Regions from separate parts of the Homo sapiens genome. Here region 2 is linked to region 1. The links come from fine-mapping of genetic effects on gene expression. A gene starts in region 1. The other region holds a variant in brackets. All regions are shown on one strand. Distances are between the middles of the regions.

Region 1 (15,564 bases):
ACAAAGGAACCTCTCGGGTTAATGAAAATAACCACTATATCGTTTTCAGAGTGTTTGTTACACTACTGTGTATCTCTGGCAAAACTCATCAAATTATGACTTTACATTGCTTAATTTTATTATGTAAGTTACGACTTAATAAGGCTCATTTAAAAAATAATCCATAATCACATTTAACTATGACAACAGCTTTTCAGGATAGGTATTTACTACAGACCTTCAAAAAATATTAAAATCAATATTAGGAGGGAACTTGTAACCATAAAGTAGATATACAGGAACTAAAAGGTTCTGAGAATGGAACAGTCCTCATCCTACTCGACGTGGCCATGTGGGTAAACAGTAGTTGCCTAGCAACTAATCTAAACTCTAAATTTCTAATAAATATATTGACCACATAAGCAGGTGATCTCACAGATGATAAACCGCTTTACATCGAAGGGTTCTTCCTTTAATAATAAAAAATAATAATGTGCTTAAGTTATTTATCTAAAGTAGGAGTGAACAAGGTGTATTAAACCTAGATGATGAAAAATAAAAATACGAAATTAAACATAAACATACACACACAAAAAATCCTTGTCCTCATTTGGCCTTTTACGTCAGGACTTTACTTACCAAATTTATGGGATTAATCCATGAGTTTGCGGGTGAACCCTTTCCCCTTTTCTACTTTAAGCCATTCCCCTACAACCATTCAAACTGGCTTAATTCTCTTATTTATATATTTACATGTGATTAAATGCATATAGGATCGTACTTTTACATATATTAAATGATTCTAAAGATATCTCTCCAGATTACAGAACCTGTAGACACCACAGAAAAATACAACACTTTCTGTAACACGCTACACACAACATACCAGAAAGTCAAACCTAACTTAACTAGATTATAAATGCTCAAAATCAAGAATTACAAAAAAATCCCTTAATAACAAGCAAATTCCTAACACACGTTAAATATATCATTTCTCTCTTACTAGACATAGCATGACACAGTTTAACAGTATCAGAAAAAAGATCAACTTCTAAGACACCACTCACTGCTAGCACTCTTACCAACCGTATTATTTTTGGTTTGCGGAGCACTTACCCCTCTTCTGAACCCAACCTTCTTTCACAATGGTAACATCGCTCATGATGACTCCCCTCTGAGCCCCCAACTTGGAGAAATGGTACTTTGTGATATCAGCTTTAGGGTTTGGATTCTCTGCTGCTGCTGCCCTTCCCACTCTCTAGTGATGACTCAGCCTGGAAGGAAGTATTGAAGAAAGAATTTTTTTTCCATTCTTGCAACTCACAGAGCAATAACAAACAACTAATTCTTTGTAAATGTCTTCAACTGGCCTGACCTCACATAAAAGTCTGGCTCTTCAAACTGGGGAACTTATTTATTAAATAGTTCTATAATGAAAGCACTTCCCTAGTCTTGTGACCAATTTCAAATGATAGTGAAACTTTTAACCTAAGAGGTTGCAACAAAAAAGTCTTAAGAAAACCAGTCACGCCTACCCAAATAATAGAGAAAATTTGTTTGGTGATGTGTATTTGAGGTGAAGAGGGAAGAGAATGAAAGTTAATTGCCCTAAATCCCTGTAATTTCAGAAGCAATTGTAAATTTTTTGTTTTTTTTTTTTTTGAAACGGAATCTCACTCTGTCGCCAGGCTGGAGTACAGTGGCGCGATCTCTGCTCACTGCAACCTCCACCTCCCAGGTTCAAGCGATTCTTCTGCCTCAGCCTCCCAAGCAGCTGGGACTACAGGTGTGCGCCACCACGCCCTGCTAATTTTTGTATTTTTAGTAGAAACGGGGTTTCACCATATTGGCCAGGCTGGTCTCAAACTCCTGACCTCATGATCCACCCGCCTCAGCCTCCCAAAGTGCTGGGATTACAGAAGTGAGCCACCACAACCAGTCGTGAATACTTTAAGTGATATAAAATACAACGTACCAAGAACTCATCATTTACGTATTCTTACTCTGCCTGTTCCAAGAAATATTTTAAGGAGATTAAAAAATAATTGATTTCATATTATGTACTTATTATAAAGTAAAGTGAAACAAAGGGAATATGAAAGTAGAAAAAAATATTTAGTACTCAAGATGTGCCAAGAACTGTTACGGGTACTTACATCTATTATTCTTATGTGATCTTTATAACCTTATGAGGATACTATTAATTCCATTTCACAGACAAGGAAACTGAGGCTCACACAGATAAACCAACTTGCTCAATTTCAACACACCTAGTAAATGTGGAGCCAAGATCTGAACCCAGGCTGTCTGACTCCAGAGCCTGCATTCCAAAACTATACTGCCTTAAGATAAAAAGAAGTCAGAGTAAAGGCATACATACTTGGGAAAGATACGTCACAAATTTGGCATGGAGCTCTTGGGAAGACAATGCAAATAACAAAACACAACAGGCTTTCCTATTTACAGTATCCAAAAAAAATTTTTTTTTGAGATGGGGTTTCCCCCCATCATCCAGGCTAGAGTAGAGTGGCACAATCATAGCTCACTGCAGCCTCCAATGGGGGTCAAGCAATCCTCCCACCTCAGCCTCCTGAGGAGCTGGACTACAGGCAGGCATCACCATGCCTAGCTAATTTTTAAAAAAAATTTTTGTGGAGATGGGGTCCCGCTATATTGTCCACGCTGCACAAATTTTTTTAAAAAGCAAAAAAAGTTCCTCAGAAGAAATACAACTTTTCCTGGGACAAACATCGAATTTATCCCATGGGTCTTCTTCATAAGATGTATGCGGGAAAGTCCTCAAAAACACCCTCCCATATACAGCAATGAGTTTTACAGGGTCATTGCTTATTGTCACTCTCAAACTAAAAAGGAAAATGCCAACATAAAATTAGTAAATCCATTTGCACAGAAGGGGACCAAAAAATGTGGTCCAGGTACACCAGTGTTATGTGGTCAAGAATCATATCATAAATTTTAGATAACTAGAAAAATGGATAGATGGACTACACAAACATACTCTCTCAACTTGGTTTGTGATAAATGATACATAGCAGTTAAGTTCAGTGTTAGACTCCCAACCTAGCGCTAAATTAGACTACAGGTCATTCTTCAATGCAAATTAAGTGTGGAGCTTAACCATTTAACAGTCAGGAATCAAGACTAAACATTCTCTAGACAGCCTGACTAAATAGCCTGACAAAAGCTATGTAGCTGAATGCAAGACCACCAGCCTCATGTATTATGAGGTCACAGGCAGAACCTATAGGTAAGGCTGAGACTCCTCAAAATCACCATGAGTCTGTTGCTGTAGAGTGTCAAAAAGGGATATTAGTTTGTAATCCCAGCACTTTGGGAGGCCAGGGCAGGAGGATCACTTATGTCCAGGAGTTCAAGGCCAGCCTGGGCAACATGGCAAAACCCATCTCCACAAAAAATACAAAAATTAGCTGGGAGTGGTGGCAGGCACCTGTAGTCCCAGCTACTCAGGAGGCTGAGGTGGGAGGATCACCTGAGCCCAGGAAGTCTAGGCTATGCTGAGTGGTGACCGTGCCTGGGTGCTACAGTGAGAACCTGTCTCAAAAAAAAAAAAAAAGAAAAGAAAAGAAAAAGAATTTGGTTGCACAGTTGGCCATATTTTTGTAATATGCATGTAAAATCATTTTAAAATCTGTCTTGGGAGCCTCATCATAAATTTTTAAAAATCCATACATACATATAAAATGCAATTGATATATGGTCCATTAAATACCAAGAATCAGCTTGACAGAATTTACCCCCAGATTAAACTGAGCTACCCAATAGGTATGGAATCCTCTAACAAGGTTCATCACAATGGTGTATTAGGAAGAGCACCAGAAAGACCAAGAAACTTGAGTCCCTGCCCCACCCAGAGTGATGCTGTATAAGGTCACTTTAATTATCTGTGCCTCAGTTTCCGGAGCCATAAAAATGAAAGTATAGCATTAGATGAACTCTGAATAGCTTTATAGCTCTTCCAGAGCTAATATTTATGATTCTGCAAGTTAAAATCTACGGAGTATCTACTTCATATATAGATGGCATCATAAGTGAAAGACATGATTATACATACATAGTTCATGTCCTCAAAAGTTTGATAATTGGAAGATAAAACATTCAAACAGCATTTCAACTAAGACAAAATTTGGGCTAAGCTCCATTATTGGAAAAATACTGTCCTCCTTCCCCTCCCATCCCCTAGTCCCCCAAATACAGTCAGAAGCTTTCTAATATAGATTCCAATATACATGTAAAATCCTCCTAAAATCTGTCTTGGGAATCTCCCTAATTATAAATTTTTTTAAATCCATCCATATATATATAGGAATTATCTAATATAGGGAAGAAAAATTATCATTTGCAATTCTAGTGTTTTCTTCTAGTAAATCTTTTTACTTTCCTCTCATAATATTTAGAAATGAGAAATACCTGTAGTTGGTGATAGAGTACTGAAAAGAAACAGAACTAAAAAACACATCAACAAGTCAAGAAGCATATATTAATTTTATCTACCCATTAGTATTCAAAGATTACTTGGCAGAGAAAATGAGTTTACATCTAATTTGATTAAAGACTATGATGCTATAATAAAATCTGTAAACATTTGAGTTATTTAATTTGGCATTTTAAACAAATGAAAGGTGATGTTAATGGGCCAGTCAATACACTTTTATTAACTTGATGCTATGGAAATTATTGTACCAAATTTTGCAAATTTAGAATTATCACTGTTAACTGTAATAATAGGTACAAACAAGAAAAACACTAGAAGTGTTGCAGAATTAGGAAAGTTTAAATAAAAGGTATTTTTAGAATGCCACAATAAGTTTTTCTTATGTGAAAATCACTTTCAAAAGTGTAGCAGGGGTTGTTTGAAAGATTAAATGAATACAGGTAAAGCACATAGAACAGTGCCTGGCACATGGCAACTGCTTACCAGGCATTGGTTAGCATTAACTCTAAACTGAATCTAATCCTATCCCATGTAAAAGATCAGGACAAAGTATTTGTTGTCGGAAGATTCAGGACTATCTTTCCAAAAGAAGGTATGCTGTGTGACCAGGATTTAAAATACTGATGCACATGCTGAAACCTGGAGTAACACAAATCTTCTAACAAAAATTAATTGTATTATTAATGCATATTAACTTAAAAATAAAAATGCCAGTCAGATCACAAGACTGATTTGCTCAAAATGAAAATGGTTTTTCAGTTCTTGCATTTTGTTGCTCAAATCTAAGATAGTTTTAAATTTTTCTTTTTAACACTTCAAAACTTAATCACACTATAAAGACAAGCTCCTATCAAATCATGCTAAGCATCCAACTAACAAGTTGTTAACAGTGATTGCCTTACCTTCCCAAGGACAAATTCTTGAACTAAAAGATATAATAACAAAAGAAAACATAGCTATCTTTTCACGAAAATACACAAAGTTTAAGTAAAGGCTAAACTTCTACAAAATCAATTTGTAAAACAGGTTCCTCATTTTAAAGAAACCCAGATAGCTGGAAATTTCCACTGAATTTTTATGAGAAAATTTCTGATGTTTACATCAAAAGCTACAGCTTAAAAAATAAGTCCTTACTTTCCACAAGTCTCTATGCTAAGTCCATTTGTTCCCTAGTAAGTTTAATCAACACGTTTATTTAGATTTGCAGTGATTCTGAAAACAGATTCCTTCTGACAGTGATTTTCTGAATGAAATGTAAATATTAAAAGTTTTTAATTAAACCAGCACACAGTTCACACTCCAGTATTTGTTAAATATAATCTTATTTAAAATATTTTACAGCTATGAAATTAATTTTTAAAAAGTCCAAAGCAAAACCTTAAAGTACTCTGACATATACAATTTAGAGTCGATGTCAAGATTATTAAGCCAAAAATTAATTTTAAATTGGAAAACAATTCACTCCAGTAATAATTATGGAAAGAAAACCAAATGAATACAAATAATAATTTCACAATTTTTGCAGGATTACTTTGGACTATTTTTAAAACGCTGTAAGAAAACATGCTGCAAAACCACAATGCAAATACACAACTGAAAACTAAAACCCTACATTCATCTAAATTTCAACAGTCTCATTCATGTAATATTTGTCCTCCCTCACTTTAAAACTGGAACCTCAAGCCAATCAAAGATATTGGGGTCAACCCTAGTAAGGAAAACAAAAAGATCTTCAAGTACCATCTCCCTGTAAACTTTCAAGTACTATCTCCTTGGTAAACTTTCCAAGTCAAGATAATGTACTGGCAAAAGGAAAACAATTACAGTCCGGATATATATCTTGCATATAATTGTGCATTAAGTCATAAACCTTGGAAAACTAGTAACTTAGTAATAAGTTGCTATTTTAATTATAAAATATTTTCATGTTTTAGACAACCACCCCCGGAATGTTTGTATTCGTTTATACATATTTTGCAAGTGATACTCAAGTTCTGAAGACTAATCTTCATTTCCTACACCATCTTTATTAGACTCTTCCACCTTCGTTTTCCTAAGTAAATACATAACCTAAACCAATGAGTTTCACTCATTTGTCAGCTTCAACCACTGACAAAACCCAGTGGTTGCCTAGTGATGTATAGTTCTACTAAAAGACATATATGACCATGCTTTACCAAATACGGAACACATGTCTAAACTGTTGAGACAACTGCCAATGTATTAACTACAAAAAGCCATTATTTTTTACTTTAGCCTCAACTAAAATCAAAGTGTGAACACTTTATTATGGCTAGAAATTACCCAATATAGATGCATAGGTTTCACTGTTGACTTTCTATTTGGAAACTTCATCAATTGCAAACTACCAGGCTTTCAACCAAAATGCCACATTGGTGAAATGAGTTGGTTTTATTTTCATAACAACATTATTTTGATGGAAGAAATGTGAGCATCCCAGCTTTGACTTGTGGGTAAGCATTTCCTCTGCTTTCAGAACATAAACAGTAAATACCGGTATTGGAAAAACCTGGCCCCAACGAGATTCTTTATCTCTAGGCTAACTGTAGATTCCCGGGAAATCCCAAACAAGGGATGGTGACCCCGCCTCGGCGTCAGGGTCAACACAGCAACCAGCTAGGCTTCAACTTTGGGCTCTGAAGGGCCCCACCGGCATCATGGCTGATGCGGACCGATGCGCCGGAGGAGGTGGACAAGGAAGAGGCTGGTCTGTTTACTTGCAGCCAGAGCTGCCGCCGCCGCCAGCAGCGACAGCATCACTGGATCAGCCAAACCCAGCATCTTCCGCACATTTCTATTCTTAGCACACAACTCCCAAGCGGATCAAAACCCCACTACTATTAAAAACACAGACAAGCACGTTACCCACCTCCCACACACACACCCCCCCCCCCACCCCACCAGTGCCGTCTTTTCCTGCGCGCCAGTGGCGGGGAAGGGTGGGGGAAGGAAGGAGACCCCGGGGACGCCTGTGCATCCTCGCCTTCACCCCACCCCACGCGCAGACAGCCTCAGCGCCAGGGCGCGCGGCAGACGGCTCCCTCCCCCCAACCCAAACACACTGACACCGGCGCTCCACGCGTTATATAACCTCGCCGCCGCCCCCGGTCCAGGCGGGCGCCCCCTCCCCACGCCGCGCGGCCCGGGCGGGGAGGGGCGAGGGGAAGGAGCGAGAGTTGCGCAGACAGCAGGCGCCGGGCCGGGGCAGCCCAGACACAGACGGTACCGCTAGGCCGGGAACACCCCTCCCCCGGCCCGCTGCGCACCGCCGCCCCCCAGCTTTCCCCGGAAAGCGGGGGGTGTCGGTGTCAACCGCGCTGGGCATCCCCCGGCCTCCACACCCACACCCGAAGCCTCCGGTGACCCAGCCCCCGCCCACGCCCCCGGCGCGGTGACAACCCAGAAGCCCCCGCCTCACCCCACCCCGCCGCCATCCCCCGCCTGAGGGAGGCAGGGAGGGCGGACCGGGGCCCGGGGCCCGGAGGGAGTGGAGGCCAGGCGGGGAGGGGGCTAGAGTTGGGGGCGGTGGCTGTTACCTGCAACGGCGGCGGCGGCGGTGGCGGCCCCGCAGCTGCTCGGGCGGCGGCGGAGGATGGAGCCGGGGGGGGGCGGGGGGAGGAGAGGGGGCGACTCGGGGGTCCCCCCTCCCTCCTCCTCCCCTCCTGTCCTCCCCCCACCCCACAGAGCCTCTGGCCTCCTGGAGCCCGGTGCGGCCGGCGGGAGGGCAAGCGAAGGGCTGCAGGGGAGGGAGGGAGGGAGCCGGCCGGGCCGGGCCGCGGAGCTGGAGCGGGAGGCGGCGGCGGCGGCGGCGGCGGCGGGAGGGGGAGGGAGGAGAGAGGGCGGCGGCGGGGAGAGGAGGAGGCGGAGACTCTACATGGGAATCGGATATCGGCTACAAATTCATCACCAGAAAACACCGCTCGGGCGGGGGCCGGGTCACGCCGGCGGGGCGGCGGCTCTGGGCCCCGGGGCGCGCCCGGCGCGGGGAGGGGTTCTGCGGCCTCCTCCCGGGCTGCGCCTCGCTGAGGGGACCCCCCGCCGCCTCCCCGCCCCCTCCTTCCTCCCGCTCGGGGCCGCCGCCGATCGGTTCTCGCCGTCGCCGCGGGGCTTGTTGTTGACTTTGAGGAAAACTCCTGACGTCAGGGGCTGGCTCTCGGCGACTGGCGGGAGCGGCTTCCCCGCGTCCCCGGCCCTGCCCGCCGCCTCTGCTCCCCTCCCTGCCCGGCCCTCGTCCTCAGGCTTCCCCGCGCCCCCAAACCAGCGGTGCCCCGCGCCCCCTCTCCTCTCGCGAGAACATCCCCCTAGCCAGCCAGAGCCGGGAGCGGGGGCAGTCGCTCCCGGGCGGGAAGTTCTGGGTTTCCCCCTCGCCCGCGTGGCCCTTGGCGGGCACCCGAGGCCCGGGAGCGGAGGCTCCTCGCCCAGCCGCTTCCTCGGCGCATCCGCCCACCCGCCCTGGCCGCGGACGCGCGCGCCGCCAGGCCCCGGGCGTCTCCTCCAGTCCGCCGCGGCCCCTTGGGGAGATGGGCCCGGCGCGAGGGCTCGCACCTGGAAGCCCACGAAGTGGGCGGTGCCCAATGAGGTAGGGACCGGAGAGCGCGGAGCAGTCCAGAAGCCGACCCCACCCCCTGCACCTCGGGGAAGAGGGAACCCGGGTCAGCCCGTAGCAAGAATCATTCCTGACTATCCCAGGAGACCACGGCAGACCAAAAACACCTCTCTGAACAGCCTTCCGCACCGCTCGCTGCAAGCATTCGTCCACACACGGTACACAGATTGCGGGCGGATCGTAATTCACTCTTGAAATCACACCCTTTTTAGGGATATTCGTTTTCAATGACTTTGGGAAAGCCACGAGGTACTACATTTACTACGAAGAGACCGTTTCTTTATTTTGAAGTCAGTGACTCCTGAGACTGCATTGGGGACAACTTTTTTGCACAATGACCATATTTTACCATGCAGCGCACTTCAGAAAATTATAAAAGTTTACAAGTTTTATCGCTTCTGGAAACACCTGGGCAGCATCCCTATTATCCCGCCACGTGGCTCTAGCCTTGTTGATGTACCTGTTACTTTCTCCCACTGCAACATTTTTGTTAATGTCTGTGGCTTCTTTCTGCAGAAGAGTTCCTCCTCCTGACATGCACTTCATTCTCTGCTTTTCTATGTCTTGACAACTCTCTTATGGTAGTCATTTTCTTATACTGTAGCCCCCTGGTATTTATGTACTGTGTGGTATTAATATTTATACTTCCAGGTTCACATCTTTTATGAACTGTGCATCTGTTGGGATTGTGGACAGGAGTAGGAAACCAAATAAAAGGGTTTTTTAAAAAAGTCAGTTTTCTCCGTTTGTAAGGGAAACTTGTCTCCCTGACCACCCTGGAGCAAAATTTGCCATTTTAAGATAACACAGTCCGTCTGAGAGAAAGTCCTGCACCATGCCTTTCCCCTTTTCCCATATTTCCCAGCATGCTATGAGCTGATGAATAAACAGACTTTGTCCTATTTTCGTTGTATCTATAAAATATACATAATGTATTCCCATAATTATCAGACCTCTCACAGTCACTATTGGTAAAATTATTGGGTTACAGGTTTCTTGCTGTAAAACACAAAAATAGGTCATATTTTTATTCCATAGTACCCCAACTTGCTTTTTATTTTTAAGAAAATAGTCCCTTATGACACCAGCACTAAAAAGAGTGTCTGAAACTTTAAATACTTAACTTTTGAGAGTCAGAGTATCCGGAATTACTGAATTACTAGATATCTCTTATCAGTGAGATGTTCATTTGTTCCCAAATTTAACATCAATATATTTACAAGAACTGAATGTGTCTTATGAGCCATACTACCTCAAAATATTTCTCCCAGTCTGGTCAGATTGCATTAAATCTTAGGTGGATTAAACCCTAAAATTCAGTATGTGAGAATGGATTATATACTCTCGGCTTCATGTATTTGAAGAATTATAAGTTTTTATTTCTGTTCAATTTTTGCTTGTGGACTATAGTAGTTTCATAAGTTTCCATAATAAAAGCATGTTTGATTTTGTTATTGAATTACTATTGATTAGGGATATTATTTATTTAAATAACGTTGTTCTTTCTCTTAGACTATGCCGGTATGAATTTGGTAGAATCTGCCGATTGTGGTATGTCGGTACTCCATACAGAGTGTGTGGCAGATTTCTTCTCTATTTTGTTATCACATCCAGTAATATGGAGTGCAGCCAGCATGTTCATCCCTGGGAATGTCCCTCCTAAATTTTGCAAAGAAAGCCTTCATTCTTTATTACACCAAATATTCTTAAGATTAACATTTCTCAGTATTAGTTATTTATTCATTTTAAGAAAAATGTTCATTCTTCTTTACTACCAATGACTAAGTTTGATACTGAGCTATTTCTTGGTACTTCCCCCATTTCTTGGGAGTAACTAAAACTGGAAGGATATTTAGAATTTCAGAGCATCTAATGTCTTAGTCCATTCAGGCTGCTATAACAAAATACCATCAACTAGGTAGCTTATAAAGAACAGAAATTTATTTCTAACAGTTCTGGAGGCTGGGAAGTCCAAGATCATGGCACCAGCAGATTTGGTGTCTAAAGAGGGTTCCGTTTCCTGGTTTGTAGGTGGTGACTTCTTGCTGTGTCTTCACATTTTAGAAAGAGTGAGGGAACTCTCTTGGACCTCTTTTTCTTTTTCTTTGTTTTTTTTTTTTTTTTTTTTTTTTTTTTTTTTTTTTTTTTTAGAGACAGTGTCTCATTCTGTCACCCAGACTGGAGTGCAGTGGCATGATCATAGCTCACTGTAGCCTGGAACTCCTAGGCTCAGGCAACCCTCCTGCCTCAGCCTCCTGAGTAGCTGAGACTACCAGCATGAGTTAATGTTCCCAGCCATCTTGAGCCTCTTTTATAAGGGCACTAATCCCATTCTTGAGGGCTCAAACCCTCATGACTTAATCACCTCCCAAAGGCCCCATCTACTAACACACTTTGGAAGTTAGGATTTCAATCTATGAATTTGGGGAAACACAAAAATTCAGACCAGGGCATCACATAACAAAAATTAAGTTACTGCTCTTCTGTCTTAATAGAAAGGGTGTGTCATCCTAGGAGAGGGCATGGAACAAAGCAGACACAGAATACCTGTTTGTGGAAGAAATACATGTTCTAATGTTCTAATGACGGCTCTAATAAATCTGTGTACTATGTACAGTTTATATAGTATTTTCCTCTTGGGATGTAACGTGATTTATTGGAAAGAACATAAAAGTGCTTTGGAGACTTGCAGACCAGAGTTCAAATCCTCTCTCTGCAGAGTTTGTCTCATCTCAGGCAAGTTACTTAATTTTTCTAAGCCTTATATTTCCTTATTTGTGAAATGGCAGTTACAACTACTTCAACAACTTATGTGAATTAAATTTTATGAAATATTAGTATCTAAAACACAGTGAGTGGTCAGCAAGCTAAGATTCCTTTACCATAAATGTGAATATATTTATGTTAAACTAACAATAGCTGCTACAAACAAATACAAAAATCTATATTGGCACTCTCTGCCACAGTTGGTTCTGAAATAACCACGTTAAGTCTACAGCTGTAATTAGTGAATATATTCTAGATGATTAATAGAACAATTTCTAAAGGAGTATAGCTTAAATTTCTGTTGGTTAAGCCTCCCAATCTGTGATATTTTTCTTACAGCATCCCAAACTGACTAAGGCACACAGTTCATTACAATAGTTATCAGTACTAATTGTCTTTTTCTCCCTTTCCCTGATGTCTGTCTGTCTGTCTGTCTGTTTTTCTGTTTTTTTTTTTTTTTTTAGACAGAGTCTGGCTCTGTCACCAGGCTGGAGTGCAGTGGCATGATCTCGGCTCACTGCAACTCCACCTCTCGGGTTCAAGTGATTCTCCTGCTTCAGCCTCCCGAGTAGCTGGGATTACAGGCGCCTGCCACCACGCCCAGCTAATTTTTGTATTTTTAGTAGAGATGGGGTTTCCCCATGTTGGCCAGGATGGTCTCGATCTCCTGACCTCGTGATCCGCCCACCTCAGCCTCCCAAAGTCCTGATGTCTTTCTTAAGGCACAGGCCAGGTGCCTGTACAAGAACATATGAGCATAGCCAAGGGCCAGATATATCACTAATCTGGTGCTGTGTGAATCTGGGTTACTTAAAGCCCTGTGGAAACCTCCCTCTTATTTTGTTCTCAGGTTTTATTTTTTTGCTATGTTATTAGAGTATGAATGAATTTTTTTTGTTCATATTCTCATTGTCAGACGGCTAAATCTGTTAGCAACTTAAGCAATCTCTGGACATTACATTTAATATTTCAGGACACTTGGGTCACAAAAAGTTACTGACCACTAATAAATAACTGCTTGTGGAGCATCGAGCTAGAATTCATGTTCTAATTCCAAAGCAACAAGCATACACAATTATTATTCCTGGCTGTGCAGGAGAATCGTGGTATGTGATAAATTAATACATATTATAATCCTACAGCCTCATTTTAGTATGTAATGTTAACTTCCTGAGGTGGTGTGCATTTCTAGTTGTTTCTGAATCAGCTCTGTGGGGATTGGACTTTCCCATGCAACAGCTAGCAGTGAAATAACAACAGTAAATTTCCAACCTTCACCTGGATAATTACCTCAACTTCTTCCTCGGTTATCTCATGTAAATACTGTCCTGTTCCAGAAAGTTTCCCCATCCATTTTAAAACACAGTTTCTTCTGCCAATCAAAACACTTTCACAATTAACTGAAAAGTTTCAAATCTACATCTCACTATTTTAACCCTCTATGAAGTCCTTCAATTGTTGATTCTGTGCTATTTTGTTAAATAATACTGGCTTTTTATAGTAGGAGAAAATCAGTCTCAGAATTTTTCTGTTGACTAGACAGAACTATGACCATTTTAAATTGCAAACACTATCTCGATTCAGTAATTGGATTTGAATCAAAGCTCTGAATTTGATTTAGAATTCAAACTTTGTAGTGGGGAAAGCAGGCAGGCTCAGCTTCTCTATTTCTCTATCTTATTTTCCTCTTCCACTCCACAAGTCAGTCTCTGGGTGAAGGACAAAACAGTTCTTACCCAGCTGGTACCGCTGTCAGCCAGCTTTGCACTCTCTCAGCCTAGCACACAGAACCAGCTACATGATTTGCAAGGCCCAGTGCATAATGAAAATGCTGGGCCCCTTGCTGGAGAAGAGTTAAGAATTTAAAACTTTTTGAGAGCAGAGCGTTAAGCCAAGTACACAAGCCTGTATTCCGTACAGGTAGCATGCCCATGAGGCTGCCGGCATGTGCTTCATGCTAGCTGTCCAGGGGCTTTTCGGAGAGTTGCTTCTGGGCTACCCTAACTGCAATCTCTGCGATGTGGGTAATGCACCCTTACCTTCAGCTGGCGCTCCTGATGGCCCCTCAGCTTTAGTTTCTTCAGTCCTATTGGAGTCTTCTCACCCCTCTGGGAGAAAGTCTCATAGGCGCAACTCCAGATGGCTCCAGGCAAGTTCTCTCCCTCCCATAGGACTCTGGGCTACAGAAAACATTGAAACATTCTTTGCCCAGCAGGCCATTCTCTTCCAAGCAGTTGGGCAGCCTGTTTCCCAGTTTTCTGAATGGGAGTCAGATCCCAGTCCACAAAATGCCCCTGCCCTGCATCCAACCCCCATTGCAGGAAACACATTCCAAGCTCTCCACACAATCAATGGAAACCCGTGGAAGTCCCCGGCATGAGCCGAAGAAACATCCTCCATTTTCTCTGCACAGGAGGTGATGAGTGCAAGTCTCCCTTCCACAAACCTATCTTGAATTTTCTCCACTATTGTATATGTTTTAAGTGGATGAGAGTATTTGAGTCATAGATTTGGTTTTGAATTCTTTCCTTCATAATAGTGACCAAGCTTGAAATTTCATACTTTTGTATCTTGAGATCTCAGTTGAAACTTCAATTTAAAATTCCTATTAAAAAGCATATTCTCTTGCCTCATTCAAAATGCAGTGGCTCATGCCTGTAATCCCAGCATTTTGGGAGGCCAAGGCAGGAGAATCACTTGAGCTCAGGAGTTCAAGACTAGCCTGGGCAACATAGCAAAACCTTATCTCTACTAAAGTTATTTTTTTTAATTATCCAGGCATGGTGGTTCACGCCTGTAGTCCCAGCTATTGGTGGTTGAAGGGGTTAAGGTGAGAGGATAACTTGAGCCCGGGTGGTTGAGGCTGCAGTGAGCTATGATTGCACCACTGCACTGCAGCCTGGGTGACAGAGCACGTCTCTATCTCAAAAAAAGACAAAAAAATCTTCTCTATGCTGTAACTATTTTCTCTGTTGCTTATTTAGATGTGTGCTCACATGTATTAAAAAATTATCAGCTATTACTGAATAAGATATTTAACAGGTGTTCAAGGCACAAAATTAATTAAAATAGTGTCTTCTCTACATATTTGTATTTCTGTTTGATAAATATGTTCCAACAAATTGCCTTTTTCATACATTATTACCTACGTTACTATTAAATATTTTTAGAGACTCTTGCCCTTAGCTAATTTCTCAAATTTTTTATTAAGCAATTTAAAGTTGAACCCTTTGAAATTTTATCTCAGAAGATGCTATGATATAGATGCCACAAAATCAAGTATAAAAAAGGATAAATGTACAATTTGTATGAGAGTCGGTCACTTGCACAAAGGTCATGCTGAGCTATGAAAACCTCTAGATGCAGGCATGAATCATAAATGATGGATTTTTGCATACTTTTTTTTTGAGATGGAGTCTTGCTCTGTTGCCTAGGCTGGAGTGGAGTGGCACATTCTTGGCTCACTGCACCCTCCGCCTCCCAGGTTCAAGTGATTCTCCTGCCTCAGCCTCCCGAGTAGCTGGGACTACAGGTGTGTGCCACCATGCCTGGCTAATTTTTTTTGTACTTTTAGTAGAGGGAGGTTTTGCCATGTTGGCCAGGCTGGTCTCGAACTCCTGACCTCAGGTGATCCGCCCGCCTTGGCCTCCCAAAGTGCTGGGATTACAGGCATGAGCCATCACACCTGGCCAGATTTTTAAAAATAATGTAAGACTGC
Region 2 (15,564 bases), 340 kb before region 1:
ATTTACATTCATCTGGTTTAGACTTAATATGCCACAACGCACCACGACCTTCCCAGGGTGACACCGCCTCAGCCTGCAGTGGGGCTGGTCCTCATCAACGCGGGCGCTGTCCCCGCACGCAGTCGGGCTGGAGCTGGAGTCTGACTCTAGCTGAGCAGAGCTCCTGGTGTATGTTTTCAGAAATGGCTTGAAGTTATGTGTTTAAATCTGCTCATTCGTATGCTAGGTTATACATATGATTTTCAATAAATGAACTTTTTAAAGACTTGAGTTGTAATGTTTCCTTTTTATCTTGTAGTGATGAACAAAACACACCAAAAAGGCACATATTTTAACTAGGCCAAAGTATATTAAGGACCAAACTTTTTTTCCTGCCATTCATTTTTCTTTTCATGATCTATATATCAATCATCCTTCACCTTTAATCAATGTCCCATCAGACTCCATTTTATTTATTTATCGTCCTACTTTGTGCACAATCAATCAATCAGGAGACACCAGGAAGCACTATGCATTACTCTTTCCATTCTGTTAAACAACGAAAACAGACAAAAAAGCATCTTTGGCTCGGTGGTGTCAGATTTTTTTCTTCAATACGCAGTATTTGAGAGGAGCCTAAAAACGTACTTAGTGAAATTAGAAAATTTACTTAGAGTATATCAAATATCTGTACACAGATAATTATTTGTCTAAAATAGTATTTCTACTATACACAATTAAGCCCTCAAATGCTTTAAAGTAATAAAAACGGACACTGGACATACCGTGTTGTATCTGAGAATGACAAACACTAAAGGCAAGGCTGCAGTTAGTTAGGACAGGTCCCTGACCTTCGGCTGCCCTGCCTGGCCAGCGAGCCATCATCCTCATCACCATCTCAACACAGAGCTGATGTCACCATATGCTCAGCCTTGCCTCTCAGAAGTGATGTGGATTAGGCTTTGGAGGCGGTGGCATGATCTACACACAGAGACCATTTGAATCTCTTGAGCATGTAAAAGGTTCAAGCCTGAAACAGTAGAACTTCTATTCAGATTCAGAAGTTTTTTATTTCATCAAATGTGCTAGACATAAAGGCTGTCACATAAGATATTTTAATTGTCCTTAATTCTGTTTTAGATATACTGTGAATAAATTATACAATATTCTAAAAATAGCACCTTTAAAGAATTATAGAGGTCACTTTTTTTTAGCCTCCTGGATCTGTCAACCCCAGTGGTTTTGAGAGAAGAGCACATGTGAGAATGCCCTCAAATTTGGCCGTGTGACATACACATACATGCTTGACTCACTCTGGTCCCAAAAGCCATTCCTCTGTCTGGCTTCGTCACAGGAGCAAAGCCAAGTTTCTACAATAGTAGCTTTATGAGGTAAAATCAGAAAAAGGCCCCATCCAGAATGATTCAACGTGAAGTCAGACTGCAGTCCAGCCATCCTACCCATCTACATCACCCACGTCTAAGTTTGTTAATTTGCCATGACATGTTGTTAGAAATACACTCTAAGAAAGGAAATATGCAGAGCAGTACATTATCAGGAAGACGTTAATGAAAAGCTACATTCCTTCAGATTCTGGGTCCAAACCGTGTGTTGTATAGATGATTCGGGTCTGAATGTCCCCAGGGTCTGAGACCTCCTTCATCCCTGGCTTCACAGTACATCCATCCTAAATCCAGTGCTGAGAGGTCAGCGTTTCCCCTCAGAAGCAGCCGTTCATCAAAGTTTGCACAACCGCACTACTGCCATTTCACTGAAGTAAAAATGATCCCCTATGTGTGTGTGTGTGAGCTACAAGGAATTATTTCTATATTTTCCTGTCACATTTTATACAAGGTAGGTTAATACCAGCTGGGGCTATTAAAAATCATGTTTTCATTAAAGAAGATTTAATTTGGGGGGATTATAGAACCACATCCAACAACAATAAACAGAGAAGTAGCAGATTGACATAGTGCTTTATTTAAGCTGTCTGTACGAAGGAAAATCATGTTCATCCCTATCATATACGTGTAAAAATACTAAGGATGTACAGTGTACAAAAACAGTTTCTCCTAGTTATTCCACATCCTTGTGGGTCATATACTTCAGGAAATAGACAGGTTTAGTATGACCAACAGTAATAGTAATACAGTTTCTTGGGTTTATAGTTGCATCTGCTTAAAATCCTTAACCAGATGACTAGATCTTGCGCAGATCTAATGAAAGAACTAGCAAGGTCAAGAAATGTCACAAACTATAAAGCTACAGGGAGGTAATTCAATTACCAATTTAGAGGTTTTCTTTTTATTTAAATAAATACTTTACATTTCATGCTTGCCTGTAATGCACTACCAGGAGCAAGATAAGGAAATTCTACTGTAGACAGTACAAACAGTAGCAGCAAAGTGTGTATGTTGAGGTGTAATAGAGAGACCCTGCAGTTAGTAAGGAAGGCCCTTACTTTTGTACTCTAGGAGAAGCAAGTGGCCCCTGCAAGAACAGTCAGCTTTAAGAAGCTGGAAATCAGGGATGGGAAATGGAAAACAATACTTGAATAATGCTATGTAATTAGTGTAGAAAGCAAAGCTGAGCGCGACCCTGCCAACCATCTAAGCAGAAATGGCCAATTTCCTCCAAGATGGCTGCATTATGACAAGAAGTCAAGCTTCATGACAGTTAGTATGGGCTGGAGTCTGCAAAGTCTGAACTGTATTCTCATAGAATGATTCCAGGTTTCAGGGTGTTCCACCTGCCAGAACCCAAAACTACAACTATGGGCGACACAAGGGAAGTTTTAGAAATCTCCCTCTACACGCATTTCTGGTTTTCTATTATTCCTCCATGGCAGCTGACAGATCTGGAAGTGAAAATAGGGGATTCTCAAAATCAAAGCCAAGAAGACACCTTGTGTGACACCAATGGAGTCTCAGAGGGTGGAATAGAAGTGACTGAGCCCCAGGCATGGCTGGGAACTGAGAGCCAGTGTGAGGAGTGGCCCGCCTGGGGCAATGTCAGTGCCAGTCATTAATCTTTAAGAAGTGTCCTTGGCCAAGGTCATGGGAATCACTTTAAGATTTGCGGGAGAAAAAACCAAAACAACAAAAAGCTGTGTGCTTAGTGTTCGGTGTCATGCTTTCCCTCTAGAGGAGTAAGTGCTCTGAACATCAGCCAGTCTCAGCTTTCTGCTCTTCCTCTCACCTGTTTCTTTCTTATATAATGGATGCAAGACAACTTAAAGAACATACCTTCTAGTCTACTTTTTTGTCAAAATGAAACATTCAACATAATTCCAAGTGAAAAAAAAAAGATTAGCTATGTGTGTAAGTAAGAATGAACTACCATTTACTGTAACTTCCTACTCAATACTAAGGATGAACTTCACTCAGGTAGAAATATGAAAAAGAAGGATAACGTTGATGTCTGAATATGTCTTAGCTGCCTTAGTAAAATGCCCTTTAACCCCCGTCAGTCCCAGTGGCCCACCCACTGCCAGCAGTGGTTTCATAGCTATAAATCCACACTTCCAGCGTCAAGAGGCTAAGACATCTGCATATGAATATGATTCATCCTACTTAGAAAGTCACTTGCTCTTTCATACAATGCAATCATAATACTACGTCATGCTGTAGTCTTCCGTTTGGGAGCTGTCAGAGTTTAACTAAAATACATTTCCATGATCACTCCGCGGAGTAGGATGGCCTTCTGCTTGCCGCAAGAGTGGCCCCCAGCCCCTAGGACTTCACAGGCTGCTTTGGAAATTGTCAGCTCCTAGCACCAAAGGGTTTAATCTGAAGATCATCATTAATGAAGGAGAAAGATGAGGTTTGCATACATGCCCCCTTTCAGTGAGAAATGTTGGAATCTGGGGGACATGAGTATATACAGAAAAAGAAAAGCTGGAGGTGTTCTCTTTTTTTGTTGTTTTTTCCCTGATGGCTTAATTCAGTGATAAATGTACCATGATCCCAAGAAACACACCAGGTTCTTAGCCTTCACTGCCCATTTCCTAAATACTCAAGATGTGTTCATTTTGCCACGTAAAGATCATTTCTTATCTTCACTCAGGTCTCAATTTTCTTCATTACTTTTTGTTGCCAGGTCATCATAACGTTTCAAATTCTTAAATGAGCAAACGTCAACAGCTATTTGTTTCATTAACCCCTTGGCATGCATAGTTGGGGATTTTCTCATTTTCAGTACCAAGGGGTTAAATGGCAGCATCTCTTCTCCCAAAGCCAAATTCTAACCAATATATTCCATTTCAGAGCCTTATCATTTTTTTTAACAGAGGAGAAAAAGTGCATGATTCTCATCAGCGTGTACAATCCTTGCACATGGGTCAAAAGTAACTGCAGTAAGTCTATTTTATATAAGTTGGAGCTGCGTTTGCTAACATGACATACAATTCTCATCACTAAAAAATAAATACTACTGCAATATAAACAAAATCATAAAAGGACATTCAAAGTTTCAACATCTGAGAAAAAGCTAATTCACGTAGAACTGAAAGTAAAAAATTAAATAAGGCAAACACCTGTTTACCTTGGTGTAGAAATTTTGGTGAAAAGCAGTATCATTATACCTGTCTACATTCTTCAGCCATCAGAGGTGATAAATGTCAAGAAGGAAAAAAGGTTTCCAAGCACAGGGGAAAGATGCTCTCTGGCTCAAATTGTTTCATAAGACCCTTTAAGTGACCTTGACTGTGCATATGCCTTCAGTTCTTGGTAGAACAGTGTTCACTTGCTCATGATTGCCCGTGAAGTCTCGACATCCACATGTGATATGGGCTTCTTCTACAGTATCCACCAGGAATTTAAAAAAAAAAAATTATATATATATATATATATCCCAACAGTTGTTCAGTCCTTCTACCAAATGCTTCCTAATCAATTCCAGCCACAGCTTAGTGATATATGCCTACTTCACGCACGGATCTGATGTGCTTTACATATGCACGCCACCACCCTTCCACAATTGCTTGTTCTGAATTTATAAACTAAATCTTCTTAGTCTAGTTAGTTTTTCTCTTCTAGAAAGTTAAAAAATGTACCTAGAATCAGTGTATCTCATTTAGCCTTCACTGAGGGAAAAACTAAAAGATCAAAAGATGATAATTGGTGCACAAATGAACAATGGTGGGCTCATGACTTCCAAAGGTTGGAAAATTACTTCTTAAAGTTGCTATAATAGTAAGACAGTAGCAGCAACAGCATGAGACCTTAGACTGAGATACAATTTCATGCAAAAACAAAAACTGGAGTGTATTTGCGTGTATGTGTGTTTTCATGAGGGTGAAAGGTGGCGAGGGGTGAGGACCCTTGGCTGGTCTGGGATGTCGGAAGGTGCCCCTGCTATGTGTAAGAGCTAGGACTGGTGATGTCCAGGAATCATTTTCAGTAATAAATTGAAGATGACAGTGAAGTAGCAGAATGAAAGAGACTTATTCTCGTCCACTTGCAGAGTAGGAAAATTGAGGGAAATGCGGCCGCCTCTCATTGTCCATGCAGTCCATACCATCCTCATCATCTGTGGGCAGGAAACATCTATTTTAATTTTACACATTCATTTTTTGCAACATTATCTCTAGTCTATGTTTTTTAAACTCTGAACATAGGAAAGATGAACAGAGGCAATAGCTCCCATAAACTTGTGTTCATCAATAAGCTGTAGAGTAATTATACTTCAAAAATCATCTGATTTTCATAAATACATAGTCTATGAAGAAATAATACTATAGAATCATCTCTAAGACATCAAAATTTCAAGACTCAATGAAACAGTGAAAAAAATGGTATTGAAGAAAACAGAAGTTTTTAAGAAGGAGCAGTCTTCAGTAACCTTTCATTTCATGTAACCACATATATCAAAACTGCAAGTCAGTGAAATCCACAGCATCCAAAGTCTGTATAGAATTCATCATCGAATGTCTTCAAGTGCTTATATTTTTTCTTTGTGATGCTTTAAGTGCAACTGCAAAATAAAGCTTCTTATGAAATTTCATTCAACATCTAGCATCTGGCTTAACTCACCTTTCCCAATTTCCCTATGATAAAACTTTAGCATGAAGGGACTAAGTGAAAGAAAAAGAGGGAAGGATGTCAACATCTGAGTCCTAGCTCATCAGGAAACAATGGAAGAGACTTGAAAGGCATCAAAACAGGCCGCTGACAATCACAGTGTTCCTCCTGTCAGCTTTCCTGGTTTCCTGTATTTCAAAGATCACAGATGATCAGCACCCTGTTCTCATAAATGTCCTGTGATGACAGTCCTGTGCTGTTGGAAGCTCTTCCTGGTATGTGGCCACGTGGTCAGCCACTCAGTCAACATGCGCTCCCACGCATCTGCTCTGGGCTGAGCACCCGTCAGGCCCAAGGACCGCAGAACTTTGAACAAAGTCCCAAGGGCCCCCTGGCCTCACAGTCTCCTGGGGGAGGTGCTCCATTTTAAATCCCCCGTGCTTGCCTCTAAGCTTGTTTAATCATATGCTGTCCTGCAATGGAAATCAGTGAATCTTTCCAATACTCAACCCTTTTCTCTTCAAGCAAAATAATTCGATGTCCTCAAACCCATATAGGAAGTACATTACCAATTTTTTTGAATATTCTAACCTCTCCAGGGAGCATCCGCTGGATGTGGGTGTAAACAAAGAAAGCATACAGGCCAGATCCCACTGCACTGAGGCTCTGACTCTGTCACTCCGAAGAGGAGGGGGCTCTGCCTTTGTCTGAAGAATAAACACTTCCATTCTTGTATCACTGTTTTTCTTTTCTGTATCCCACTCTTAATGCAGAAGATTCTAGAAATGGGATCAAGCTGGCATTAGCCAAAATTTCTGACCCCTAATGTACCAGAAGATATCCTCGTATTAGGTGAGAACTGATCCATCAAGAAGCATTTGTGGCTCCCTGCTCTGTGTAAGACACTGAACTCGGAGGCCCTCTCTTCTTCTGCAAATAGACCACTGTAACTGCAGTCAGCATTTCTAGAAGGTATTGAGATTTGGGGAAATCTCTACCTCCTTATAAAGTTATTGGTTCCAATATTTGTACCAAGCAAGTCACACACATCTTTTAGATCAAATACCTTCAGCAGTATTTTTAGCTACAGTAAAAACGGAAGGAGCTGGGAATGATGGTGTACCCGTGGTTGAGCCCCAGAGTATAAAAACTCTCTAGAGAATACGGGCAGCTAAAACCTTAATGTTCAGATTCTGACATGAGCCAATCACATTTCAAATAAACAATTTTCCTCACCAACAGCTTTATTTTACTCAGTGTTTCTGCACAGCAAACCTGCAGCTGGCTCTGGACAGCAGTGGGGAGCCTGGTGCTTGTCCTGCTCAGCCAGGAAGGGCAGGAGCTGCCTGGACTCCTGGGGCCATGGCCAGGACTCATTCCAGCCCGGCGAGGTTCAGCACCCAGGTTAGCCAGATGCTCAACAGGGGCAGGTGCTAGACACCCTTTTGGAAGAGGAGGGACTCTTGCTGGTGTCAGCTAAGAATTGAGAGACAGCCTTCATTCTGTCACTTCAGTAACACATTCATCACAATTCTGAATCTAGGAAATTTCACAGATATCCCTGAGGGCCCCAATCCTTGATATTCTTTAAAGCCAATGATCTCCCTCCATCATTCCTGCCCCTTTCTGTTGTCAGGCTTGGAAACAATGAGGCGTGAACATCTGATCATGGCCCTAAAAGAGCTGAGAGCCTGGGCAGGGGCTGCGGTGGGAGGGGAGCTGGAGGAAGTGGCAGCTGACTCTGAGTCGGAGCCTGTCAATGTACACAAGTTAGTTCCTGCTGTGAGAGGCTGTGCATAGGGAATAGTGATGATAATGAACATGAACTATGTTTTTCAAAAACACTTATCTGGAAAAAGAAGACAATGATCAACTCTACTTGCTACATCCCTTGAATCCCTGCATCCAAGGAACATCAGTTGCCTGATTTTCTTAGAACATTTAACAAATGGCATTATATGGCAGTAAAAGCGACCAGATCTCAAAGAAACCCTCTTTTTCTGTAAGAGGAAGGAGGAGGACCATCAATGGCGATAACGAAAGATGACACATTCCCAAATCTGTTCCATTATTAACGCCAGTGAGGACAATCTGGCATGTCACTGCAGCTGTTTGTAGAAAATGGAACATTTTGCCTTTCTAACTGCTGATTTGTTCTAAACAATAACTGTATTCTGTTTTATACAAGCAAGGTGGCAAGTGGGAAGACAATTGCTAACGAATGGTACTACCCTGGACTTTTATCAACAAAACCTCTGTGTGTTAGCACTTAGGGAGCTGCAACGGTTTCTTACCAGTTAAACTATTCAAAGCTGCAAGAAAAAGGTTATGTTGAATGTAATCACCGTTCAAGGTTTCAGTGATTCTCATTTTATCTGCTCCTTAAGGGAATCTAGGATGTATCCAGGAACTGTCAAACTAAAAATACTGCCCCGTTGCCCTAGAAGAACCCAGAAGCTGCAGTTAACCACCATCAAGGCTGCTCCCCTAAGACAGGAAGCCCAGGGCCCCATGGCCCCCAGTGCTGAGCGCTGCGCTCTGCTGAGCCACACAGACAGCAGGAGAGGCTGCTGAACAGAGGTGCCTGCAGATGCGTCGATGCTAGTCTTTGCCTGGGCATACTCTGCTGAGCTCTTCCGTCTGACTTTCCTTGCTACAGAGGTCCTGAATAGGGAAAAACACAGCAAGTCCATAGCGCCCTCCCCACCCCTCAATTGCGGTGTGCCCTGTCAGAAACAGATGACATTGCTGGGCTCTCGTTTCCGTACTGTCCAGGGCCCAGGAGCAGGGCAGGACCACACCCCATTTCTGACACCCACAAAAGCCAGACTTTTTTTTTTTTTTTTTTTTTTTTTTAAAAGACAGAGTCTTGCTCTGTCACCCAGACTGGAGGGCAATGTTGTGATCTCAGCTCAGTGCAGCTTCTGCCTCCCGGGTTCAAGCGAT[C/T]CTCCTGCCTCAGCCTCCCGAGTGGCTGGAATCACAGGAATGCACCACCACGTCTGGCTAATTTTTGTATTTTTTTTTGTAGAGAGGGGGTTTCACCATGTTGGCCAGGCTAGTCTCAGACTCCTCCTGACCTCAAGTGATCCACCCGCCTTGGCCTCCCAAAGTGCTGGGATTACAGGTGTGCACCACTGCGCCTAGACAAAAGCCAGACTTTTGTGGTCCTACAATTGCAGGTGGATTTTGATAACCATCTTGAAAGTTACTACAATGTACAGGCTTCCTAGGTATCTCTGTCTCAATCTAGAAGTGAACCTATTATCATTTAAAGACACCAAGGTTGTAGGGCTTTTACAGCATGATCCATGTCTGAAATGACACATGTTATTTAAGAACAGAGGTGCTGTCAGTGGTAAAATATGACATGCCAGGAAAAACATTCTTGATGGCTTTTATATTGCTGATTAATGAAGCCAAGGAACTAGGTTCAAATTATGTTCTAGAAACTGTGCTGGGGGACTTCTAACACCTTCTAACATTTCAGTCTCATTTTAGAAGTCCTAGAGATTGAGCAATAAAATGCACACTAATGACAAATTCTCATCAGGACAAGTGCCCCGCGGGTGTCGAGTAAGGAATAAAGCAGGTAAGATGAATTTCGAAGAGATTCTGGTCCTTGAAAGCTAGGGCTTTGAAATTCAAGTCAATCATGAAAAAATGACTGACTAGCCTAAGAGTCATATACAACAGTTTCTAATTGACCTTATTTGTACCCAAATCCATTTTGATTTGCTCTGGTCTTTCTAGTCTCACATTTCTGAGCATCGCATTAGTCAGCCCTGTCCGCCGGCCCTCCACTACACCACCCCTGCAGCCAGGTGCTTGCTGCGTTGGGCCTATCATCCCCCTAAATGGACTGGCCCACAGCATACAGTAACACTATGGACTAGCCAATCTGGTGCTTGAGCAGAATTGAAAATAGGGTGATTCAAATTGGCAGAACTCTCGGTGCCTCTCCTAAAGAGACGGCTTCTCAGGCACACGGGAGGACAAAAACGCCACTGAGAGACTATCAGCCCTGCTCCCTGCTTTTCCAGGGGACAAAGTGACCGGCCATCGCCCAGAACTGTAAGGGGCACAGGCAGGACACAAGGCAGGTTCCCCAGGTCTGAGTCCTGGGCTTTTTCAGCCTCACTCCATGTCCCAAATTGGGATTTCACTTTTAGCTTTCTTAAGTAAAATATCTACTCCTGGCTTGACATTTTAGAGCCTTCTTATTTCTATGACTTCCAAAATAACATATTTACTTGCTCTAAAGGTACGCAAATGCCAAATGCTCTATTTAAGAATGGAAACTTTCTCAGAGGCTGAGACTGAGGAAAGAGACCTGTCAAGACCTTCCTATCCCAATATCTGCTTTGGATATTCAGAGGGGAGGCAAGCCTGGGTGTCCTCCCGGCTCTGAAGTTCCTAGGCCCTCACCATATTCTGTGTATTCATGCACCTAACAAGTATTATTGAATACGCACACTGTGCCAGGCATCTAACTAGGAGCTTGGGCTAATAACGAATGAGACAAACTAGATCCTTCCTCTCCAACCCACTGCATGTTAGTGGCGGAAATAGACACTAACCAAACAAACAGAAAAATACCAGCAAGTCAAGGTGCCAATGCAGAGAATGAAGAGAGAGAGGGAATGTTGTCAGACTGATGCTCTTCAGACTAGGAGGTCAAAGAAGGTTCTCTGATGGAATGACATGTAAGCTTAGAGCTGAAGGACAAGAAGGAGCCATCCAAGTAAGATCAGGGAAGAAGAGCATTCCAGGCCTGGACACCATAAATACTGTCCCCAGAGCCCGAGGCATGGTGACGTGTGGCATGTTCGAGGTGTGGCTGGAACCCAGGGACAGTGGGGGAAGATGGAACAGGAAGAGGTCAGAGAGGTGGACAGGGCCCAGATCAGTCAGTGCTGTGCAAACCAGTGTGAGCAAGTTTGGATTTAGAGTGCAATGGGATGGCACCGGAAGGTTTTAAGCAGAGGAATGATGTGGTCTGATTACAGTTAGGATTATATCCAAATGAAAGGGCCTAGCAAAGGCTGTATGGCAGGAACTGCCCATGGGCCGATCCGAAAACTCACTGGTGTTACCCAGCATTTTGGACAATTCTAATGCCACAGTCTATGCTGGGGACAGAGGCCAAGGCCTATGCCCATGATTTCTACTCAGCGCTGAGCTACTTGCCCATGACTCCACAGGCTTTCCAACATTGTCTGTGACTCTTAGTGATTCTAAAATTCTAGCAATGGCACAAGATTGAGTGGAAACTCTGCCTCACCACAGGACTGACCATGAGTAGCTCACTTCAATGGATTGGTATTTCACAACTTAGCCTGGACATCGGTCAAGTTGGTAAGCCCTGCTTCTGGCTATGGCTGACCCAACTTCAGGACCTGGAGCACCTTAACTTTTTGTGAATCTAAAGAAAGAAAAGCACACACACGTCATCATATCTTCACTTTCAGGGTGTTCACAATCCCCTTGTGGCCAGACCATGGTCCCAAGATTAAGACCTCTTGGCCCACATGACCCCTTGTTTGCCTCTCGACAGTAGAATCTGCTGCCTGTGACCATCTCTGGCACAGCATTAGCCTCCAATCGCCCCTCTCCCGGACACTGAGTCCACATCAGCACTATGGATAAATCTGCCTCCAAAAAAGGAATGAGAGGAGAAGACATATAGGGAAGGAATCAAAAAGAAAAGGAAAGAAAAACTATGATGTGAACCCAAAGATGTGTAACTTGAAGCATTCTTGCAGCCATCCAAATATTGCCCTGAAACGCAATCTTATCCACATTCTTAAGTTAATGATGATACACACAGACCTCTGTCAGCATGAAAATGTTTATCAATTATGTCTGATCACCTTTTCCCTCATTACAGCTCCACTTATTTATGGTATTTCTCCAAGTGTGAGACATACTAATGTATATGAATTGACTTGAAGTGGTACATGAACACACAGTTTTCATAAATATGTAATTTATAGGTATCCAAAAGTATTAGCAAACTAAATTATGTCTTCACAGATAATACTATTTAAGAGAGAGCTAAGTAAAAAGGAGTGACTCTACATGAATTTTAAAACTATTAAGTAAGTAGGAGACCAAAACTGGCAAAATTCTGAAGGTTATGTGGGAATGAACGAAGTCTAGGAAAGAGGGGAGTCTCTATTTCACAATCCTTTCAGTTGGTGTCAAAACAATCTATTGGTGAACAGTAAGGAAGAGCTAGTCTGTAATTTCATCTACAATTTCTCTCTATATAATTTGTCCTACCCAGAAAAGCATTTCTTGCAGTCTTTTGATATTACCACTGGGAACTCAATATTCTTAAATTCAATTCAATATTCAATATTCTTAAATAGAATGGAGTAAGTCACTGTGGAATTTGATCTTGAAAATATCAGATGAGTTTTTAAAAGACTGTTTTCTTCAATTACATTAGGAGAAATTATATTAGAAATTTATCAATTGCCTTCTAAATTTACTTACATTTTTCAGGTGGTGTTATTGTAATAGTCTGAGCTGTAAATTCTTCATCAAAATATCTAGTATCTGTCTCAGATGTTACTTGAGGTTTAAAAGGAGGTACAAGCTGTAAAAAGAAAGAAAAAGAGTTTTATTAACTGATTTCAATTCAGGAAAATTCCTTTCTAGGAAAAAAGCAGAGAGCACGTAGTTAAATGAACAGAACAAAAGTCTACAATGCTGAGTCGCTGGGTAAGGGAGACATGATATTTGGCTTCCCAGTCAACAGTCTAAACCAACCGGTGGGTAATTGGTGGTTCTGTATAAAATCTAATGGATCACGAAAAACAACAAAAGAAAACCATTGAATAGGACGGGAGAGGGATATTGAAAAATCTGTGCTGGTTTTTTTCCCCAATAACAAACATACATGCAAAACCATATTGATGGGGAGCAGTGTGCCAGGATGTGGGCTCTTCCTCGGGCAACCTCTTTCTAGTGCTAGCTGAAGAGGGTAGTAATAAAAATACAACTTAATAATACAGCTATCACCAGGTTACAGATGAGAGTGCTGCCTTTGCCCTTCGTAAAGAACTACAACTTTGTACTTTGCTAAGAATTTGCTGATAAGAGATGGGCATTGATGCCTGCCCTGCTCTGGAAAAGGGTTTCCTGGTAGCCCCTGACGTTACATGCAAAATCTTGCCCACAGCTTTCATCAGATCCTCAAAGGGGACCACAGCCCAGAAGAGATTAAGAGTAGCTCCCCTGAGATTGACAGGGCAGGAATCATCTCATTCGCACTGCACCTGCGGCAGGCATGGCGTTAGGGAAGGTGGGGGTGGAAGGAAAGTCTCGGGCTACTGGAGGTTTCAGGAGCCGGAGCCCTGTGAACCTCCACTGGTTGGGAGGGAGAAGGAGCTAACACGAGGCTCCTGCTTCTCAGGGCTCTAGCCTTGAGGGACAGGTGGAACCCACAGGTTCCTTCTAGCACAGGATGCCCAGTCCCAGAGCATTAGGGTCAGAGTGCGTGCTCTGCAGAGTATCATTCAGAACAGGGGATGCTGCTTTAGAATACAGTTCTCACGGGGATAGGAACATGGCAAACAGAATGACAGAAATCAGCATGTTTTATAAAAATTTTACAAAAACAAATACACAATTGGCTTGAGATCAGTGCATTTTCCCACTCTTTCTGTCACCAAATGTATGTTAAATAATAAGGAAAATCTTTAAATTATTCTCTAGACAGAACTATATTTTTAAGAATCGTGGGATGAGCAGAATTAAAAGCAGGTTTTCAAAATAAGGGACATTTCAGTTTATGGTACATGCTACAAAGCATTCTTAATCTCTTCTTTTTATAATTCTTTCTGTTTACCCCCAGCACACAGCTATTCTAAGGTCTTCATGATTAGCAAGCACTCCTTTGGGGATGAACCAACTCTACGTTCCACTGATCAGCTGGTAATGGCGACTAATCCCTAAACTGAAACAAACTCCTCCACCAGTGGCAAGGAGAAGCCTGCCATTGTGCCAGACCATATTTCTTTCTAGCTGCCCTGCTGGATCCCCTGGACATGAGCAAGCAGGTCACTCCACTGCTAGAAACCCTCCCTCTGACTCTCAGGCTAAATTCTCCACACCAGCCTCACATATCACATGCACACGCACAGGGAACCCCAGAGGTGACAGAGGCTGGAACAATTTTGTTTTTTTTATTTTTTTTAGAAAACCAAGGGGGTAATTGCCCCTATCTGGCAGAAAACGGGAAGACTGGAATTCTGGTTGGGTTTTTCTGATTTACTATTCTACAGATGTTCACAAAATAGGTCTTTATCTTTCCAATCAGAAGTTAACCACAAGAAATTCCTGTGGCTGGAATCGGCTTCTCTTGGGCACTAGGAGTAGGTTTGCTCACCTCTGCCCCATCCTTTTCATCTGGTTCTTTGTGATGTCAAAAATTTAAATTTGCCTTCAAGTTAGGGGAAACTTGTCCTTTTAGATGAGAGAATGATGACCTGTAACTTTAACAAACTGAAACCTATCTTAACACAGTTTTCAAAAGATTATAGGGGAGCTTAAAATAGTCTCTGTTTCAAATGCCACGTGTACTGAGGACTTTCCTGACCGCCTTCTTACATTAAACAGCTATCCTCCCCCTCACTTTCTATCTTCACATTGCTTTTTCTTCAAGACTTTGCGACATCTGATACACAGGCACGTATACATGCACACATATGATATACATGTATTTGTTACTGTCAATGTTCATCACCAATAAAATATAAGTTCCACGAGGGCAAGGACTTTAAAAAAAAGTTTATTGATGCGTAATTAACATACACTAAACAGCACACATTAAGAATATACAACTTGGGCTGGGTGTGGCAGCGGGCGCCTGTAGTCCCAGCTACTTGGGAGGCTGACGTGGAAGGATCACTTCAGCCCAGAAGGCAGAGGTTGCTGTGAGCCAAGATTATGCTATTGCATTCCAACCCGGCCGGGGCGAACGAGTAAAACCCTCTCAAAAAAACAAACAAAAAACATGCAACTGATACGTTTTGACATATGTATATACCCATGAAACTGTCACCAAAATCAAGATGATGAAAACATCTACCACTTCAAATGTCTTCTTGTGCCCATGTGTACTTCCATCCTCCCATCCCCTGCAGGCCATGACTGACATACTTTCTGCCATGACTGATTTGCTTGTATTTTAAAGAATTTTATGCAAATGGATCATAGAGTATGTACTCTTTATCTGGCTTGTTCATTTAGCATTATTACTTTGATATTCATCCATGTCACCACATGTATCAATAGTTTACTCACTTTGCTGGGTAATATTTCAGTACATAGATGTATCACAATGGACACACTCATCTGTCAATGAACACAGGGCCTGCTCCCAGTTTGGGGCAATTACAAACAAAATTGCTATTAACTTTTATGTCCACGTCTTTGTGTAGACATATGATTTAATTTATTTAGGACAAATACTAAGGAGTGGAATGGCTGGGCCGTATGGTAGGTATACATTTGACTTTTCCAGAAACTGTCAAATTGTTTTCCTTTACCATGTTAA

Which allele goes with the higher level. Alleles are on the strand shown, and positions count from the first base shown. SD is a standard deviation of normalised expression in the study named.
For the expression in subcutaneous fat of the gene that starts at base 8,214 in region 1, allele C in region 2 goes with a higher level than allele T (small effect, 0.11 SD a copy in GTEx).

What was found. PIP is the estimated chance that this variant, and not a neighbour inherited with it, causes the effect. A credible set is the group of variants that fine-mapping cannot tell apart.
Region 2: its variant is the best candidate, but not a certain one, in a credible set for the expression of AKT3 in subcutaneous fat (GTEx, PIP 0.67).

Annotation. Positions count from the first base shown.
Region 1 is chr1:243,842,030-243,857,593 of GRCh38, forward strand. AKT3 (AKT serine/threonine kinase 3) reads right to left here and starts at 8,214. Exons shown (of 14, transcript NM_005465.7): 1 at 8,011-8,214; 2 at 1,096-1,253. The coding sequence starts at 1,141. RefSeq lists an enhancer at 7,123-7,623.
Region 2 is chr1:243,499,827-243,515,390 of GRCh38, forward strand. It overlaps AKT3 (AKT serine/threonine kinase 3), which reads right to left. Exons shown (of 14, transcript NM_005465.7): 13 at 12,498-12,600; 14 at 1-5,508. The coding sequence ends at 5,423. It overlaps SDCCAG8 (SHH signaling and ciliogenesis regulator SDCCAG8), which reads left to right. Exons shown (of 18, transcript NM_006642.5): 18 at 1-265. Among named protein-coding and RNA genes, the nearest start is that of MIR4677, 160 kb to the left of the region's middle. The variant C/T (reference allele first, on the strand shown) is at 8,946.